4 separate regions of the Homo sapiens genome follow, and regions 2, 3 and 4 are each linked to region 1. Evidence: fine-mapped QTL for protein levels in blood plasma. A gene starts in region 1. Each other region holds a variant in brackets. All regions are shown on one strand. Distances are between the middles of the regions.

Region 1 (5,151 bases):
AAGTATCTGGACAAACTAAATAGTTTTGCTCAAACATGGAAAATTTTTTGACTAGCCCCTCCAAATTGCTTCTATTCTAATCTTCATTTAGCTACACAGACCTTCCCCCAAAAAGGTAATCTTTGTGTATACTTGTATGACCCTTTTACATCAACATGTTATATGTACATATAGGAATGAACAAAATTAAAATCTAATAAGAACATACAAGTTATATCACTATTCTCCTTGCTATACGGTTATAAAATATGATGAGATTATGAACTTTAAAACAATCTTCCCAAAGATATTGAGAAAATAAATATGGATTAAAACGTGATTCTATATTTCTCCAGGCAAGATGACTTCATATACAACTAGGCATATAAGTAAAATTTAAATATTTTGTATAGTCCTAGGGTGGAAAGTCTAAGAAAAAGACCCCAGTTTCCAGAGGCTACTGGCCAATTCAGGACCAATAAATATATTTAAACTGGAGACAAATATAAAATCATGTAATTATGTATGATCATTGATAGCATTGCTGTAAGATCCAGTTACTTACCATCTGAGATCTTTTATGCATTTGGAATGTTTATTTTTCAACCTTGGATATACGGTTTGATACCTCTACCTTAAAAAGAAGCTGTGTCTCTTGCTGCCATTAAAAGACAGGGTAGGGGGAAAAGTCAAGTAACAATACTTGTTAGCTTCTCTTTCCTTTAACTTATCCCTGGGCAGGGGTGGGGGAACCTTTAAGCAGAGAAAACAAACTTTCCCTCCAGCACATCATTGTATAAGGACTATACCATTTCTCTGAATAAAGAAGAAATAAATTCAGCTTTGGAACTCTGCCATTGAGTGGCGGCTCCTGCAAAGGGGACAGTTTGCTATTAATTGTTAATGTCGTCTGCCATTAGAGGGCACTAAACAACTCTACATTAATGAGTTGGAGGGAAGAGAGAAAAGGAGACTGGAAAAGAAAGAGAGGGAGAAAAGGGAGGGAGAGTACGGGTAGAGTCTGGGTAGAGGGAGGGAAGGAGAGAAGAGGGGAAGGAGTAGGGGAAAGAGAGCAGAGGGAATGAGTTGGAGGACTGGAGGGAAAGGGAGAAGGGGAGAGAGACAGCGAGACAGAAACAGACAGAATGATTCTGGAAAGATTAAGAAGGATGTGGAGCCCCCACAGCCGTCTGAAGTGAGCAAAATCCAGTCTCCCCCGGGCCGCCCGAGCCCCTCCCCTCCCGTCCTCATGACGGTAATTATAAAGCGAAAAGCGGCGGCGAGGTCACCCGCTTTTACCAGCCTGCTGCACCGAATGCGCGCGGTGCAGGTGCGGCGGCCGCGGGGCTTTGTGATTCATGCCCACTTTCAAAGGGGGGCTTGGGCCCGTCTGAGAGGCACCCAAACAACTGTCTTCTAATATTAGCACGGCTGTATTTCGGGATCTATTATAGTCTGTCCAGACAGATCCCATTGTAATGGGATCTTTTATTAAAAGATTAGCACTATCTCCTGCAGTTGGTGGAAAAAAATCTGTTATCACTGAGTTATTTGCAGTTGTGGAGGGGGGAAGGTTGACGGAAGATGGGGGGTGGGAGGGCTAGAGGAGGACTGGGGGAGGGTCTGGCGGGGGGAGGGCAGTTGCAGGGGGGGAAGAAGGGCAGATTTGAAATTCGTAGAACAAATCCCAGTGACCTGCGAATGTCCAAGAATTTTGTCTGCATACTTCGCTATCTGTTGTCCTTCGGGCTTCAGATGCGAAAAGAACAAATTTAAAAGGCAGCTTTGGAATAAACAATATAGCATTTTCCGTGAAGTAATCGTTTTATATAAAAGGAAATATCGCCTCCTCAGTTTCATTCAGCGGTGCCAAAAATGTTATAAATGAGAGACCCGCCAACTTTCAGCGAAGAATGCCAGGCACTGTACTTAATAAACTGAGGCTACAGAAGTTCATTATGGATGTTGCAATCTTTTTTATTCCGCGAAAAGAGAGAAGACGAGACAGAAAGAGAGAGAGATTGGAGCCGAGGAGACTGAGAGACAGACAGAGGCACACAGGACAGAAACTGGGGAGTCTCCAGGCGGGAGAGGAAGGGGGGGCCAGACCGCCTACGTCGGCGCCCCCGCTCCGGGCTCCGACTCCAGACGCCGCGAAGTGAAAGGGGAGAAAAGAAAGGGAGAGGGCGAGGCTGTGCCGCGGGGAGACCGGGCCTGAGGTGTTAAACATTTTTGTTTGCTTCCGACTAGTCCAGACGAAGGGCCGCGTCTCGGTAGCGCTCTGCCAGGGTGGAAGGTGCCGGGGCCGGGGTTCCTAGCAACACCTCTGGGCTGGGGGTGGCTGCAAAGTCAGGCACTCACAGACCCAGACACAAAACCTCGCGGGTCCCGCGCCCAGGCTGCGGGTGCCCGGAACCGCCGCGAGGCCGGCGCGCTCCGACCCGACCCGGGGCGGGATATTTGGGCAGCCCGGGGCTCTTCGGCCGTTTGCAAAAGTCTCTTTGGAGCGGAGGAGAGGCAGCACGGAGACAAACTCCCGGGTTCCCCCCGCCACCGCCTCCAGCGCCCCCACCGCGCCCTCCCTCTCACACTCGCGCGCGCGCGCACACACACTCACACACACACTCACACACACACCCGCCACCCCGGGCGCGCCGGCGCTGCCGGCGAGCGGCGGCGAGCAGGACTTGAAGTGGGTGTTCTTCCCCACTCCCCACCCCCGACGCGTAGCCCCCAACCCCCGCCCCGGTCGCCTTCCCCCTCCCTCTCGCTCCTACGCAAATAAGAACTCGACGATTCCCTTCCAGCCGTTTTGATTTCGGGCACCTCCGAAAGATAATTGGGAAGGGTTTCCAGAAGGTGGGAAATGTCACCTGATTCACACTGAACTTTTGAAAGCTCCCCACCCCCAAGGAGCCGCGCACACCCTCGCTCGCGGCCGCCCTCCCACAGCCCCACACACTGGGAGACCGCCCACCGCAAACCGCGGAGACCCCCGTCTAGATTTAAAGCGCGGCTGCGCCCGGCTTCTGACGTCCATTGAATCGCGCGGGCGGCCGGCGGCGAGCGCGGGGCTGCGCCGGGATCGCTGCGCCCTCCGCCGCTGGCCTCTGCGACGCGCGCCGCTCGCCCGAGCCACCCGCCGCCGCGCCGGCTCCCCGCGCCGCTGCGCTCCTCGCCCCGCGCCTGCCCCCAGGATGGTCCGCGCGAGGCACCAGCCGGGTGGGCTTTGCCTCCTGCTGCTGCTGCTCTGCCAGTTCATGGAGGACCGCAGTGCCCAGGGTAAGCGAGTGGGGATGCGCTGGGGAGGCTTGGCTGAGGACAGGGGGGTCGACTTTTCTGTGGTCTCCACTTGGTCTGTTCTGAGCAACGCTGCTCTCGGAAGATGTTGAACCAACTTGGGGACTCCGGGATGGAGAGGAGTGGGAAAATTGTAGGCAATGACACTTTAGGACTGGGAACTGAGTTTGGAGCTCGGTTATCTTGAAAAAGGAAAGGGAGCGAGCTGGGGTCTTAGTAGTTAGGGTTAAATGCTCCAAGTTCTGGCCATGATAACTTTAGATGTGATCTCCTCTGTTTGGCTCTGAAGAAGGGAACAAGTATCAGTAGTAGCCTGGAGATTTCAGTCGACCCATTTGCAGTCTCATCTCTCTCCCTCCCACATCTTTTGGATACTTAAAAAAAAAAAAGGAAAGAAAGAAAAGAAAACCTGGGGGTTTGGGGGAGAGATACTGAATTTTATTTGGTGGCTGGGGGACGTGGTTTCAGAAACTTTGCCCAAACTTGGAAATGTGGGTGCTGAAGATTTTCAAGGGAAGTAGCTTTCTGCCTAGTGGATGCTTCTTCCAACCCCATCCCCCATTCTCGCAAAAAAAAAAAAAAAAAAAAAAAAGCCAAATTATTACCCCAAAGTGCTTTGAGCACTTTACAGTTTTTTTCCCCTCTGCCTCATTCTTCTTTCTGACCCTTAGCTTTCTGTAAAACAGTGAGCAGCCCATAACTGACTTAAATTCTGAAATGGGTTAAGAGCAAATTTCTGAAGCTTGCCTTTTAAAAATAGATTTGTTTATTTCAATTAGTCTTTGGGCAGAATGTTTAAAATAATAATAGCAGCTTGCGATCCAATGATTGTTAAAGTCATATTGGTGATTCATGAGAAGTCTTCTCGACCCAAATCCGAACATTAAAAAGGGGGAAGAGGGAGAAATCACTTGCAAATATTTCTTGCTAGGTATGAGATAGGTACTTATAACCGTGAAATGGTAGGAAGACTCCCCCCTCCCCCCACCTTAAGGCATTACTTTCCCTGCTTCAGCGTTAACATTTTAAGTATGTTGTAAACTGCCCTCCTGGGCACTGCCCCTCGCCGTCTGCATGGCACTGCGCTGGGTTGCCCGCCTTTAGAGGAGAGGCTCTGCCTGGTGCCCGGACGTGGGCGCGGAGGAAAGCAGCCCTCGGAGATTTCGAAAGATCGCGGTGGCCGCGGGCGTGCTCCGGTCTGGCGGATTGCAAAACGGGCCCGTCGGGCTGGCTGCGCCTGGAGGCCGCGCGGGGTAGCTCCGGGCTGGGCCGGGTTGCTTTTTTGCTTTCATTTTTCAGAAGTGCCTTTTGCTTGATCTGTTTCTCTCTCTCTCTCTTTCTTTTCTTTCTTCCTCTCTCTCTTTCTTTCTTCCTTTTTTTCTTTCTTTCTCTTTCTTTTCTTTCTTTCTCTTCTTTCTTTTCTTTCTTTCTTTCTCTTTCCTTCTCCCTCTCTCTCCCCTCCATCTCTCCTCTCTCCTCTCTCTCGTTCTCTTACTTTCTTAACCCCTGTCACAAATAATTCCTGTACCCGCCTACATGAAACCAGCATGTAAAAACATCCGTCGCATCCTGTTTTTGTCAGGTTCTTTAATCTGCTCTTCGAGTCTCTGCAGGTTATGAAATGGGACGAATAAAAGTAAACAGTCTAGTAAAAGTCAATGCAAGCTGCACGTGTTGTGTCTGGGTCACTGGTAACTGACATTGATATGGCTGGGGCGCCCTGTCTTCTCCCTCTCTCCCTCCCTCCCTCTCGCCCACCTCCCATCTCTGTGATCAGGGCTTCCCCCTCCACTGCCTTCTTTTTCCACCCCTCCACCCCTTTCGATTTATTTCCTACTTTTCTCCCGCGTCTCTCTCACTTCCCCTCCTCCA
Region 2 (5,151 bases), 530 kb after region 1:
TGAAGCTGATGTAGCATTATGTGTCAGAGGAGCTAAATAACTTCTATAACTCAGAAACAGACTTTTTGTTTTTAATGTAGAGAAACTTGTTTAAATGCCAAGAGTCCTCTGGGCATATATATGAAATTTTAAAACACTACATGTAAGAGTGAGGAGAGATGAGTAACCACCTAAGACAGAAATAGTGAGAAAAGGTATCTAGGGAAAAGAAGGTGTGTCTTAATAAATATCAGGCAGACTGTGAAATGTGTACATGAACTGCATTTTAGACTCTATCTCTTTAAGTGTTAATGCATTGCGACTACTAAATGCATTATTAAAATGGTGCCGATTGCTCAAACCTTTGTACCCAAAGCACTGGATTATGTTATCCAAAATTTTAAAAATACAAACAAACACTTTTCATAACAAAAGTTCTCTCAGACTTTTGACCTCTCTCTTTCTGGCATTACACGAAGCTAGAACTTGCAGGGGTTGGAGAATGTGGCCTCTGATCACTAACCAGGGTTTTCTCTTTACACTGGCTTGTTTACTTATTTCTTCACCAAAGCCAGGGAACGTCCCTTTAGCTACTGCAGCATTTCTAACAGATGCGACAAATCACAGGGGTGTATTTTGACTGCTACTCTGTCATGTGAACAAGAGAAACACTGAAATCTTTTCCCAGTCCCTGTGCTTCATCCTTGTTTTCCCAAAATGTTTGTAAACTGCTCCAGAGAATTCTTCTTTTAATATTTGAGTCTTCTTTCCTCTGGTAGATTAAAATGTTAATACTTACGTTAATAAGATAAAATGTCATTAACTGGAAATCATTTTGCATCTCTGTTATCTATTCTGGCATTGTCATTTCAGTATTGTGGCTGATTGGAGGTCCAAGAAACTATTTTAATGTAAGATTACAGAACTAGACACTAGAAATTATTTCTATGTTCATTATTTTAAGGTTTTGAAAATGAGCTGATCATTTTCATTAGAATATCCTGGCAGTAGTATTCATGTTTCATTATAAATAAAATGTCCATTAGAATTTGTGAAATATAAAACAAAAGGTGCTTCATATTATATATGTAAATGCAAAGGTGCCTTAATTCCCACTGATCTTTGACAGCCTAAATGAAAGATCTCCCTGCATTTCTGTGTATTTGCCATCATTGTTAAATTGCCACAAAGTTGCTTTCGACTTTTTAATCATTTGGGAGAAGGCAGCAGTACTGGCAGGAACTTCAAGTAACTTAGCAAAGTGTGTTGCCCTCCTTTTCCTCCACCCAACAACCTAAAATTACCAGCTTTCCATAAAAATTGTAAACTTTCTAACATTCATTTCATTCACTCAAATATAGATTTGTAAGGTTTTTTTAAAGCATATTATTCCAGCATCACTGATTTGTTTAGTTATGAAACACCCCACATTCCATAGAAAGTAATACTTAGGCTTTGTATTACATTTGCTAGGTAGGTAACTGTTTCAGGTCAAAAAACATTGCCCTGAACTCTCTGGCTGCTGCAGACATTCCTGCTTACAACACTATGGACTGCGAATATTGTGCACAAACTCTTTTGTCTTCAGCCCAAGAGATGGAATTCAGCAAACATGCAGTTGACTTTTTCTATAAGAACAATAATTGCTGCACTACTAAATCTTGCAACTTCTATATTAAGACAAACTTGATGAAAAATGGGTCAAAATTTGAGGCTCAATATCAGCCTCATTTGGCAACAGAGCCAATCCTCAGTAATCTGTGGAAATGGCAGGCAGGGAGAGTAGGGAACATCTCCAAAACCCATTTTAGCAATATTCCAACAGTTCCAGTTATCAGAGCTCTTAACAAAGAGCAGAATTTAAGGTTCTTCCTCAATTCTCAGGCCACCCTGGAGGTGAGGTGAGAGAAAGGGAGGAAAGGGCAGGCTCCTGACTCTCTTTACTGAGGAAAAAAACAAAAACAAAAAGACAGAAAGGAGGAGATTAAGACCAACACATAAGGCCACAAAGAAAGGGAGAATGATGACTGTTTTGAAGCGATTTGCATTCTTTTAGCAGACCTGAGTAAAAGGAAAGCCCTCCCGAAAAACACAAAAACACTGCCCCACTCACTTCATTTCTTCCTGAAGGGCAGGCTCAACAGGACTAAAAATCTGCTCCTTGAACAGGAGATTTGCTAAACAATCCATGCATAGTAGTAACATTCACCTTACATTTAATAATTACTTTATAAGTGTCAAAGCAATGACAATGAAGTAAAACAAGTAGATTGATTTTTCAATAAATGAGCTACAAATTTAAGACTTCCAAAACACTGGTCTAAAAAAATTGTCAAGATAGGCAATATTCCAATTGATACTGTCACTGCTAAACATTAGTATTTCCACTGGAATTATCTAGAGAGTTAGTTAACAAGACATTCAAGACAAACAGTCTCAATGCCTAGTAGATATCACCTCATCTTTGACCATATCTGGAAGGGAACCAACATGATTCAAAATATTCACCAGACTTGGCTCTGAATAACCGCCAGCTAAATAAAAAATAATAATAACCTGCAATACAAAGCCCAAGACTGTCCAACACCAAGGACATCTAAAGATGACAATGGTTTCTGAAGAAATTATCGCATTATTTTATTGATCCCAACAATGACTCCATCAAATCAGTAAAATAAAAAAAATTT[T/A]AAAAAAATCAGGCCGGGGGCGGTGGCTCACGCTTGTAATCCCAGCACTTTGGGAGGCTGAGGCGCGCGGATCACGAGGTCAGGAGATGGAGAACACGGTGAAACCCCGTCTCTACTGAAAATACAAAAAATTAGCGGGGCTTGGTGGTGGGCGCCTGTAGTCCCAGCTACTCGGAGAGGATGAGGCCGGAGAATGGCGTGAACCCGGGAGGCGGAGCTTGCAGTGAGCTGAGATCGCGCCACTGCACTCCAGCCCGGGCGACAGAGCAAGGCTCCGTCTCAAAAAAAAAAAAAAAAAATCAGCTCTCACAAAGACTGTGGAAGAAGTCCTTAGTGAAGTGATAAAAGGCCAAATTATAAGACAGATGCCTAGCCTGTGCCGGGAGTGGAAAAAGCCCTCCGTGAGCAGATTTCACGATTCAAGGTTAAGTCTCTAGAGTGAAAATAAGTGTAGTTTCACAGAAGTTGGCATATAAGGAATTCAACCTTTAGAAATATATACTGTGAATATCCAGAGTTCTATACATTATGGCTTTGTAGATTATAAAACTGTAAAATTTAAGTGTTTCACCAAACTTCCACCATTATTACCTCAAAAAGTTGTATTACACAGAACTTCAACTTTCTATATGACCCGTTTCAGTAATGTGTGCATTTCTTAAAATGAGCACATTTCTCCTGTAATCAGAAGAGGTTGGTTTTTTGTTGTTGTTGTTGTTTTGTTTTTTGTTTGTTTTTAAATAAATAACAGAAAAAGGTGTCAGTATTTGGAAATACTATTCTTCATGGGTAGAAACTTGATAGTGATTATATAGGTGGTTAGGGTGAAAAATAGCATGAGTTCCATTTTTAACTTCTTTCCCAGAACATTTAACCTAAAACAACCTAAGACACCGAAGTTAAAAGGCTTGCTAAGTCAGAAAATTCAGGAAGGGAAGCTTGAATGCAGGCAGTCTAACCAAAGGCAGTGGAGGAAATGCTGGAAAACTACGGTCTTAAAAGAGCATAAGGGCCGGGTGTTGTGGCTCACACCTGTAATCCCAGCACTTTGGGAAACCGAGGCGGGCGGATCTCGAGGTCAAGAGATCAAGACCATCCTGGCCAACATGGTGAAATCCCGACTCTACTAAAAATACAAAAATTAGCTGCGTGTGGTGGCACGCACCTGTAGTCCCAGCTACTGGGGAGGCTGTGGCAAGAGAATTTCTTGAAACCAGGAGGCCAAGGTTGCAGTGAGCTGAGATCGCGCCACTGCACCCTAGCCTGGCAACAGAGCAAGACTCTGTCTCAAAAAAAAAAGAGCATAAATGTTTAATAGACAAACCAAATATTGTAAATTTAAGGTAGCATTTCTAGCGATACCTAACAAATTACCATCACTTTGTATAAAAATAACAGATTTTAAATACACTGTTTATATGTGTTCTTAAAATGGCATGCAAACATTATAAAATCCTTTTATAGCCTTGTAATATTTCAGATCAAATAATAGCTCTGAAAGAGATGAGAGAAGATACTGTCCATCCCTTTAGATAAGCAAATATTGTAGTCTTCCAGAAATAAAGATTCTATAACTGGCTGATAGTCCTCTTCATGGTTTTGATTGTTTTATGGGTTCCATGCTTGTATGCATCCCATGAAGTCTCTCAGTTCCCTAGCTCTTATTTGGTCACTCTCCTTTGTATCACTAAAGACAACAATTTAGTTTTGTCTTGAATGATTGAGGACTTGCATTATTACTCACTGGCTGCATTTAACCCAGGCTATGCAAGTTGAAAAACAAACAACAAAAAATAATATTTCTTTTCTTTTTTTTTTTTTTTGAGACGAGGTTTTGCTCTTGTTGCCCAGGTTGGAGTGCAACAGTGAGATCTCAGCTCACCACAACCTCCACCTCCCAGCTTCAAGCAATTCTCCTGCCTCAGCCTCCCAAGTACCTGGGATTACAGGCATGTACCACCACACCCAGCTAATTTTGTATTTTTAGTAGAGATGGGGTTTCTCCATGTTGGTCAGGCTGGTCTCCAACTCCCAACCTCAGGTGATCCACCCGCCTCGGCCTACCAAAGTGCTGGGATTATAGGTGTGAGCCACCACGCTGGACTCTTTTTTTTTTTTTAGATGGAGTCTCGCTCTGTCGCCAAGGCCGGAGTGCAGTAGTGCAATCTCGGCTCACTCACAAGCAATTCTCCTGCCTCAGCCTCCTGAATAGCTGGGACTACAGGCATGCACCACCACACCCGGCTAATTTTCGAATTTTTAGTAGAGACGGAGTTTCACCATGTTGGCCAGGGTGGTCTTGAACTCCTGACCTCAGGTGATCCACCCACCTCAGCCTCCCAAAGTGCTGGGATTACAGGTGTGAGCCACCACGCCCGGACTTCTTTCTTTTTCCTACTTTCTTTTATTCAATTTTAAGACATCTCTATTAGTTTTGAAAACTGAGTATAGAAAGCTAATTTCATTTTACAAGTTAAAAATATGC
Region 3 (5,151 bases), 31 kb before region 1:
AGATTGGGGGCGGGGTGGGGGGGGGCTGGGGGGAGGGGCGGCGGTAGTGCGGAGCTTCCAGTGAGCCGAGATCGCGCCAGCGTGGGTGACAAGGGCAAAACTCCGTCTCAAAAAAAAAAAAAAAAGCAACAGTTAAAAATATTCAAGTTGAAAATTTTGTAAGTCCTGAACTTCAGAGAAAAAAAGGGCAGAACACAGGGTGGAAATGGAAGCACTTGTTTCCAATAGCAAAACATGAGCTCGCAAGTCAGGGCTAATACTACTCAACAATTCCAGATTCCCAAGCTGAGGATGACTCATAATTCATGAGCATCAAGACTAAAGATGATCACTTGCTTCTTTCCATCACTGAAAGATGGGCTGTGTAATGTAAGGATAGAAACAAATATTTTCAGCCTCTACTAGTTTCATGTGGCATTGTTATAAGATAAGGAATTTGTGTTGCAATCACTTCCATTATTCATGATTGTTTTAATTCCCATGCAAGTTAATGAACAGAACAAAGAGGTAGTAAACTAACTCTCTAAAACTAGTGAGTTAAGAGTTTTTGACCAATATTAAATGTTACTCCATTTTTTTCTCATTAAATTTCCATTCAATAGAATACACACTGATTTTACAAGAGGTCATTAATATATAACATTTTTGTAATGTGAGATGTAGGTCACAATCACTTAAAGTCTCATGGAATTATGTTGTTGTTGTCGTTGTTGTTGTTTTGTTTTTGCATCGCTGTTGTCTGTTATACCAGCCTACGAGTTCACACAAGAGTGTCAGCAGAGGGTACCTTTACAATTCACAGGCTAAGACTCATAGTTCAATCCCTCTGAGCCCTACAGCATTCTTGCTTGATTTGTATATCTTAGTAATCTTTTAAAATTTAAAAAAACAGATTCTAATGCAGAGGAAACAGATAACAGATACATAATCAGCCTTGACTTTATTGGAAAGGATTAGTAACATTACCTTGTAAAAATGAGCACAAGTAATTGCCTAATTGGTAAGCCATGCACTTCCGAAGACAATGTAAGTCAACTACCTATTTACTTTTTGTTTCATGTATTATATTTACTTACAGGCTTTTTCCTGTCTAAAGACCCTTCATAACATGCCACATTGGTATTGTTCATGCTAGATTATAAAACCTCAAGGCTGGGACTATGGCATAAAGATACATAGTATAAGTGCTTTACAGAGGGTGGGTGGATGGGTTAGTTGTGAAATAAATATTTCTACAAAGTCTTCAGTACTTATAAGGCACCTACTGTTTAGGACACTATCATTTCAGTGGTTCATTTTAGTGTTAGAGAAAAGTAAATTTCACTTTGGTTATCCATTTCTGAGCAACAAAGTGGTTCATTGCCATCTTCCTGATATTTGCAGGAACTGTCATAAGACATTACCAGAGGAAGATTAAGACTGTGGGTACAGGAAAAGATTGATGACTTAGACCTTTTAGTTATCACCTACATAACAGAAGTGAAAACATTCATAAGGACTAAGTTCTTTTTCTTTCCTGCCTCTCTTTCTAAACCTGTTGGCATCATGAAGACTGTTCTTCCCTCCCTGGGTCTTCTTCCTTTTTCCAAAGAATTCTAAAAATGGGTAGCCTCCAAGGTTGAGTCTTCAGGCTTGCCTCAATCGGGGATGCCAGCCTCAATCACTACAGCTATGCTGGTGGCTCCCAAACATATATTTCCATTCCTAACATCCCATAAGAATTCTTGGCCTACATTTTCCAGAAAATAATATTACTTATGCGTCCAAACTCACGTTTTTTGTCCATCTCTCTGACAACTATCTTCTTTACCAGCTTTCCTACTTTAATTATTTATCATTGTACCTTCTTCATATACTCCCAACTCATTATTCCCTTTCTCTGTTTAATTTTCTTCAAATAATTCATCAACAGCTAACATGCTACATATTTTCCTTATTTACAT[T/G]TTTATTATCTGTTTCACTTGAACATAAGCTCCATAAGGTTGGGGAGCTTTTGATATCTTTATTCTCTGTATCCCAGTACCAAAAATACAGCACGTACTCAATAAATATTTCTTGAATAAATGAAAATATTAAGTGGATAAATGAAAGGATGAAGCCATAATGCTCCAAAACTTCTAGACCAGAAAAATTAGAATTATATTTGATTCTGGTCTCACATCTGCCATCTACATCTAATCAGTTACAAAATCCTATGATTCATCCTTTCAACATTTTCTCCCAACTGAGTCCAAACCCTAAAATGCTTCCCATGTGGATTTTTAAAAAGCCTCAGGCCAAGCATGGTGGCTCAGGCCTGTAATACCAGCACTTTGGGAGGCCAAGGTGGGAGGATCATTTGAGGCCAGAAGTTCAAGGCCAGCCCCAGCAACATAAAGAGACTCCATCTCTACAAAACAAACAAACAAACAAAAAAAACATTTAATTAGCTGGATGTGGTGGCATGTGCCTGTAGTCCCAGCTACTCTGAAGACTGAGGTGGGGAGGATCACTTGAACCCAGGAGTTTGAGACTGCAGTGAGTTATGATCACACCACTGCACTCCAGTCTGGGTGACAGAGTAAGAGATCCTTGTCTCAAAAAAAAAAAAAAAAAAAAAAAGTGTCTCCAGGCTCCCTCCATTTCAATTACTTTCTTTCTTCAGATAATCCTTCTCAATCCCTAGTTCTCATCACTCTCAGAATCTAAAATCCTCTATAACCTGCATAACCTGACCTCTAATACATACTAACTTTACTGATAGATTCTAATTCCCAATTACTATTTATCATTCCATTTTCTCTTTCACTTAGACTGAACTGACTATTCCCCTTACATGCAATGCTCATTCCTACCTTGATGCCTTTACTTGGGATATTTCTACTACCTAATGTCCTTTTTTCTCCTCATCTTATTCAAATCCTATATATTTTTTGTTAGATCTAATTCCCAGCTATGTTCCATGGAGCTCTTTAAAACCTTTACCAACAACCACAGCCCATATTGATTCTGGCTTTGTCTGGTCTCTGGAAACTCATATTGTCAGAACTTCATAATCCATCACTCCATTGATCAATGGTTTCATGGCTTCACCTTGGCTCTTTAATACAATGGCAACACAAATATAGCTGAACTATTCTCATGACCAGTCTAAGATCAGTGCTGAATTCAACAGAAACATAAGTCCAAAACCCAAGGATACTCTTGAAAATATCTTAAATTTTTACTGACATTTTTTCAAAGAGACACAGCAAATATCCTAAAGCTCCTCCTTTTCCATCATTATCTCTGAAGTCTTCTTAACAGCTGCTCAATAATCATTCTTTTCTCACTTACATTTTCCACCCTTAAAACTCCAGTCCATGCTGCAGTTTATTCCTTTCATTATCCCCTTACCTCTTGAGACTGAATCTATTATTCTTCCAAAGATTGCTTTCTGCCCTATTTCTTCTATACCAATTTAGACTTTGGGGGCTCTTTCCAATAGCGGACATAGACATTAACCAAAACAAAATCCTACTTCCTGGAACTGCTGAAGTAAAAATGACACTTTCTCCTGCAGAAATAGAGAAAGAGGAAAAGCTATAAGTTTTTTACAGGCTTTTTATTCCTGTCATACATCCCTCCTAGCTAAACCTTTGTGGATCTCTGAAAAGGACATATCACTTGTTCCCTTGAGGCATTTCCCATTGGATGCCAAGCCTTTCCAATCTTTATTCTTCTTCTGTGGGGTTGGAAGATTTATTTTAACAACAAACTTAATTGTGAGGTGGTCTGAGCCAGACAGTGACCTCTTTACCCTGAAGCTCCAGCTATGCACCCTCCACCTCCAGCATAGCAGTGATTTCTGTGCCTCTGTCTTTCACACCCTTGGAGGAGCACATTAGATAAGTGCCTTGCCCAGGCCAGCCCTTCCCTCCAGATGTTTTGTCCTCTGCCAGAGAAAGATCATCTAGTCACCAAGTTGTTTTTCTCACAGTTCCATGACACTGTGGCATCATCTGTGGGCCAAATGGGCTGCCATGTGACAGTGAAGCAGCCTCAGGAGCATAGAATAATGAACAACTCAACCCCTGGGGAAATCCACAGGTGGAAACATTATAGCAGGAGACCAGTGGGGCCAAAAAATGGTAGACACAATGTGACAAATGGAAGGGCAGTGGCAAATGCAAAGAAGCCTCTTTTCATGAGTACACAGAGGACACCCCCAGACATTTTCCATAATAGTTGAGGGGGGCTTTGGAAGAGCTAAGGTCTGTCAATAGAGACAGTGTAAGTACAGAACTAGGAACACAATGATACTGTTTATGTGATTCCAAGTTTACTCCTTGGCTCTCCAGCTGGGAAAACAAGGGTTTCGTGGAAAATAAAGGCCACATCTACCTCAAAGTGCTCTTGTAAAATGTGCATCACAATATGTGGAAAGTGTAAACATAGGGCCTAGCACATAGTAGGAGCATGGTTAATGGTTCTTTTTCTACTCCTCTGCCCAGCTGCCCTCTCCCCCCACCCCAAGAGCAGCCTCCATATCTCCCAAGGATTTATTCATTCAAAAAATATTCATCAGGCTTTTACTAGGCATTGGAATACAGTGGTGAAAAGACAAAAATAATTATACCTTGCTGGAGAGTAGGGCACAGAGCAGGTGCTTAATAAATATTTGTGAATTGACAAGACCAATCCCTAGTAGTCCCATCTCAGACAACTCTTTACTGGAATCCTCATACCCCAGAGAGCTCTAACCAGGATTTGCTGTCACAGGAAGTAGTTCATGTTGACTTTATGCTTAAGGATAACCAAGAGATGGAAATATAAATAGGTGTCCTGGGGAAAAAGAGATGGCTGAGAGGCCTAGATTGCAAATAAATTGCTAAAATGTCTATCTCTATCAATAGAAAGAAAATCTGGAAATTCCAGAAGGGAAAATATCAACATTTACCATACCAAACCATGCCAAAGCCCATCACAAATCAAAGTAAGAAAGAATCAAATGAAAATTGTTATTGCTGAATTTTGTCCTAAGTGTGCATATATCATTCAAGTTATACAAGTTAATTCTTTATCACAGTTGATAATAAGTATTAAAAGGAGTCAGATTACAACTGGATTTCATTTAAACAAAGGACATTGAATAAAATGAACTCTACATTTAAAATAGACCAAAACTTTTAA
Region 4 (5,151 bases), 540 kb after region 1:
CTCAATAATAGAAGAGCGAAAACAAAAGAATCAGCGTACCTGAATTTCTTTAACAGAACAACAGAAATTACTCAATCTGAACAACAAAGAGAAAAAGTCTAAAAACAATGAACAGAGCCTCAGGAACCTGTGGGACCATAATCGAAGATTTCCTTTGTGTCACTGAAGTTTCAGAGGGAAAAAAGAAAGAGGGTGTGGCTGAAAACTTCTTCTAAGAAACAATGGCTGAAAATATCCCAAATTTGGCAAAAAGACATAATGATTGAAGAAGTTTACAGATTGAAGTTTAGAGAACCTCAAACATTTGAAAAACCCATGGAAATCCATGCCAAGATACAACATAATGAAATTTCTGAAAAATAAAGACAAAGAAAAAGCTTCAAAGCAGCAGGGCAGAAAGGGACACCTCACCTAAAGAAGAATAAAAATTAAAATGACAGCAGATTCCTCCCCAGAAACCACGGAAGCCAGAAGGAAATGATGCAACATTTTCAAGTGCTGAAAGAAAAGATCTGTCAAGACAGAATCTGATTCTCAGTGAAAATATCCTTCAGAAATGAAGGGGCAATTGAGACATACTCAGACGAAGGGAAACTCAGAGAATTTGTCACTGGCAGACCTACCCTAAAGAAATGGCTACAGAAAGTTATCAAAATGGAAGAGAAATGATAAAAAGAAGAAATACTGGAACACTGGGAATAAGGAAAATTGAAAAGAGCAAAAATACGCGTAAGTATTATTGGGGCTCAGGAAACAATGTCCCAAAGTATGGTGCTTTGGCATGCTGAGTGCTTTGAATCAAGGTTTCTCTGACCTTCTCCTCACCCTCCTCCAGTCCCCTGCTGCCCCTGTCTCTCATCTCTTGCCCCTCTTTCCCTCCCAAAGTGCAGGAAGGTGCTTTCTCTGAAGTTCCCTTATCTGACTAAGGGAAGTTCCTCCAGAAGAAATGCAATTGCTTTGAGCCCCCCTCTCTATAATCTTATCAAACAGAGAAGATTAGCTCACAGGAAAGGAGACTAAAGGTCAAAACCACCTATTCTGAAGATTGCTAGCTGAGAGACTTTATCCGTATAACAAGACAGCCTCTGCTCATCACACATTTTTCTCCCCTCAAACCTCTATAACCTGTTACCACCTCCCACCAGAAATCCCAGCCCCTTATTTCTTTCTGTAGCTCAAAATGCTATTTAAGCTTCCACCATCAGGCCCTTTTTTGAGTCTCATATTGTGTGGGGCTCCCGTCTATATGCATGTAATAAACGTGTGTGCCTTTTCTCCTGTTAATCTGTATATTGTCAACTTTATTCCAGAGACTCAAATTATTGAACCTTCAAAGGATGGAGGGAAAGTTCCCTTCACCCCTATGCCCTTCTCCTCTTGAGAGATATCATGTTTGATGGTGGAAGAAAAAATTACAACACTGTCTGATGTGGTTCTCAATGTTCTCAAAGAGGAGATATAAAGAAGAATAAGTAGAAATCGTTGAACTGAAAAATGTAATAATGAAATTAAAAACTCAATGGATAGGCTCGACAGCAGGATGGAGAAGTCAGGTCAGTGAACCTGCAGACTGAAAAACAGGAATTACCCAATCTGAACAACCGAAAGAAACTAGACTGAAAAAATAAAAAATATTTAAGACAATTATATTATAAATGAGGAGGGTAAAGGGATGTAGAGAGAGATAATAATTTTTACATTGGACTTGAATTAGTAAAATGTTGACACAAATAGGCTGTTAAAGATTATGGATGTACAGTGTAATACCTAAAACGACACTAAAAATCTAAACAGACACATTTAAAAATATTACAGATATATGGAAATGCAATTATAAACAAAGTTCAAATAACCCTCAGGAAGGCAGGAAAAACAAAACAGTGAAAGGTAAAGAGACGGTTAAGTCGAAAAAGCAAAAAATGAAATGGCAGACTTAAGCTCTAGACTTTCGAAGATGGGAAATACAGGATTGACTCTAAAGGGGTACGACTTTATCTTGATCATGGTGGTGATTACCCAAATCTACACATGTGAAAAAAAAAAAAGACATGGAACTATATGTACACATTATACCGTTGGGGCTCAGAAACTGATACACCAAAATATGGCGCTTTGATGTGCTTAACTGAAGAAGAAGCCTTAGGCCTCTCTGACCTTCCTCCTCCCTTCCTTCTCTCAATCCTCTG[C/T]GCCTCCCAAAGCAAAAGATGAAGTTATTCTCTGAAGTTCCCTTATCTGCTGAGAGTCTGGACTTGCCAAAGAAGAAAACAATCACCTCTGGTCCCTTCCCTGAGTTTTCATTAACTGAACTCATATCACAGGAAGAAAGACTGAAGTCTGTCAACACACCTGAGCAGGTTTTTGTCACGAACCATCGTGTCTGCTCTGCTGGCCCAACAGACTTTGTCCTAGGCCGGTGTATGTTCTTCAAGCCCACTGAATTCCCCTAAAAATCATTTACTACTCTCCTAAAATCATCCCTACTTCCCCATCACCCTTTCCCCTGAGAAGAAGGGTATATAACCATCAGCACCCCACTATGTGGTGGATTAATCACTCTGGGATTCTTCCCTGTGTGTGTTAATAAATTTGTATGCCTTTTCTCCTATTAATCTGCCTTTTGTCAGTTGATTTTCAGTGAACCTTCAGAAGGCAAAGAGGGAGGCTTGCCCTTGGCCCCTACGATACAAGTTTCCTGGCTTGGTTGTTGTACTATATGGTTTTATAAAATGCAACCATGGAGAAAACTCGGTGACGAGTACACAGGATCTTTCTCAGCTATCTTTGTAACTTCCTGTGACTCTATAATTATTCCAAAATAAAAATCAATGGCAGTTATGTAACATGAAGCTACATGCAGGTAATGGTACTTTTGCAGATTTGTGAAGAAAACCAAATTCGTGAGTAACATGTACTGCGATGTTAGATTTATCCATACTTTTTAATACTTTGTATTGTATAAAAACTTAGTAAAAAGACACAATTTTAAAATTAATATCTGATACAATTTTACTTGTTATTTTAGGGTCGGTATGGTACTAACTCAATTCATATAATTATTATGTCTCCAGGAATAAGATGTATAATGAGGATTCCTAAGCAAGCCTATGAGTTACTTTGCAAATATTCAAGAAGAATGTATTTATGTTCATCATAACACATAACCCTATTTCCTCATATCTAAACAACATATGGTTACTCATATTTAACCAGAACAGCTAACAATAACAACCTATTACTCAATAATCTGGATAAAGAATTTGTAGTGTCAAGAAAAGAGATATATATACAAATACATATGTATATCTATAGTTAATACAAATACTCACAAAGTATAACATATAAAATCCAGAGGCTTTTGAAAAGGCAATTCAAGAAGGAAAAAAACATTTTTTATGCATTTACCAAATAAGTTAATGTGGAATAAACATTTCATGAAGTGTTCAACATAAAGTGATACAAAAAATGATAAAAGTAGGTTTTATATGTCTATTTGTAGTATGTGTGTTTATGTTATATACACATATTTTTTAACATAAATTTTCCACTTTTACTAAAACCAATAAAGATAAAGGAAAAGTAGGGCCAAATCCCAGGCAGATTTGATATCTACAGAAAAACATGAGAGCACTTTCCTGCCACTAAATGGAAATGAAACAATCCTTTCTTTGTGGAACAAATGGAAAGTGAGGATAGCGACCAAAAGCTTAAGTTTACCCTCACCTGAGTTTTCTTATATCTGCTAGTTGAATACACACATATGATATGATTGCAGAGAGACAAAGGGACCAAAAAAAAAAAAAAAAAAAAGCAAACAACAGTCACATATTGAAAGCACTTCCCATGCCAAGAACAGCAAACCTAATATCATGGCTTGTGAAGGCGATTCTGTAAGGAAACAGAGAATTTAATTCAATTTCTTAAAATTAATTGGAACCTTGAATATAAGATGCTGGACTGATAAAGAACCTGAGGCAAATTTCTAGTACATCATAATCACATTTTCATGAACAAGAATTTAAAAATCGGAAAGTGCTATAACGAAAAGACATGTGTTTCTTTCTGAATAAAAGCAATACCAAGTGATAAGGGATAATCACTGCTTTTCTTTCCTCAGTTTAGTGGGAAAGATCCTATGCTACTGGCAAGTTATTTGTTTGTTTGTTTGTTTGTTTGTTTGTTTGTTTCGGTAATTACAATCCGATCACATTAGTGAGAAAGCTATTTCCCAGGGATAAATTGACCAGGAAGGGATTTTGAATATTTTATGCTACTAGAGCATCATCTTATAACAGTAATAATTTCCGGGAGGATTTTACTTGCCTTGAATATTGTGCATCTTCTTGGAACTTTTTCTTAGAAATATTTATAGAACTTTTCAAATCATAGGTATTGTTATTTCTTAAGGTGCCTCTTTGGGAGGAATATTAGAAATACCAACTTCCTATAATAGCCTCTACCAAGAAGCAGAGGGCTTGATGGGATAATTTCTAAAAACAAACCAAGAAAACCTAAATACATTTTTAGTACCAAGGTGATGACCATTTATCAAAGAAGTAAATAATTTCATGCGTTAAATCATTTCCTTATAGTTTTTCATTAGTAACTGAGTTAATGCTGAATTTTTAGACTGACTAGCTTGTTTCAACTTTGACACATATTGTGTTCAAGAAATAATTATTAAGTGAATAAAAATCATATTCTGCACATAGTAAAAATCAAAGTCTATCTTATAATCTGTCACATACCAAAATTATAGCTTTCAATTTATTTTCTTTCTTTATTTTTTGAGACAGGGTCTCACTCTGTCACCCAGGCTAGAGTGCAGTGGCATAATCAGAGCTCACTGCAGCCTTGACTTCTCAGGCTCAGGTGATCCTCCCAACTCAGCTTCCTGAGTACCTGGGAATTACAGGTGTGCACCACAATGCCCGGCTAATGTTTGTATTTTTTGCAGAGATGGGGTCTCACTATGTTGGCCAGGCTGGTCTTGAATTCCTGGGCTCAAGTGATCCTCCCACCTCAGCCTCCCAAAGTACTGGAATTACAGGTGTGAGCCAGTGTGCCTGGCCTATACCTTTCAATTTATAATTCTGAGTCGAACATTCAAGAGAGCCAAGGGAAATTTTCTTGAGATTGTAAGGAGTAAAATTC

Direction of the effects. Positions count from the first base shown, and alleles are read on the strand shown. Strength reflects both the effect of a copy and how common the allele is.
In carriers of allele T in region 2, the plasma level of the protein whose gene starts at base 3,014 in region 1 tends to be higher than with A alone (weak association).
With allele G in place of T in region 3, the plasma level of the protein whose gene starts at base 3,014 in region 1 is lower (weak association).
For the plasma level of the protein whose gene starts at base 3,014 in region 1, allele C in region 4 goes with a higher level than allele T (weak association).

Evidence for each region. A credible set is the group of variants that fine-mapping cannot tell apart. PIP is the chance, under the fine-mapping model, that this variant and not a neighbour inherited with it causes the effect. Protein levels are from antibody-based Olink assays in UK Biobank. Linkage for the fine-mapping came from a reference panel and not from the study's own genotypes, which makes the PIPs less certain.
Region 2: its variant is the best candidate, but not a certain one, in a credible set for the plasma level of the FST protein (UK Biobank, PIP 0.71).
Region 3: its variant is the best candidate, but not a certain one, in a credible set for the plasma level of the FST protein (UK Biobank, PIP 0.88).
Region 4: its variant is the best candidate, but not a certain one, in a credible set for the plasma level of the FST protein (UK Biobank, PIP 0.56).

What each region holds. Positions count from the first base shown.
Region 1 is chr5:53,477,616-53,482,766 of GRCh38, forward strand. FST (follistatin) reads left to right here and starts at 3,014. Exons shown (of 6, transcript NM_013409.3): 1 at 3,014-3,261. The coding sequence starts at 3,177. RefSeq lists an enhancer at 4,247-4,316.
Region 2 is chr5:54,008,053-54,013,203 of GRCh38, forward strand. The region is part of intron 4 of ARL15 (ARF like GTPase 15); the gene reads right to left. Among named protein-coding and RNA genes, the nearest start is that of MIR581, 59 kb to the left of the region's middle. The variant T/A (reference allele first, on the strand shown) is at 2,667.
Region 3 is chr5:53,446,818-53,451,968 of GRCh38, forward strand. No RefSeq gene overlaps it. Among named protein-coding and RNA genes, the nearest start is that of FST, 31 kb to the right of the region's middle. The variant T/G (reference allele first, on the strand shown) is at 1,944.
Region 4 is chr5:54,021,501-54,026,651 of GRCh38, forward strand. All of the region lies in intron 4 of ARL15 (ARF like GTPase 15), which reads right to left. Among named protein-coding and RNA genes, the nearest start is that of MIR581, 72 kb to the left of the region's middle. The variant C/T (reference allele first, on the strand shown) is at 2,187.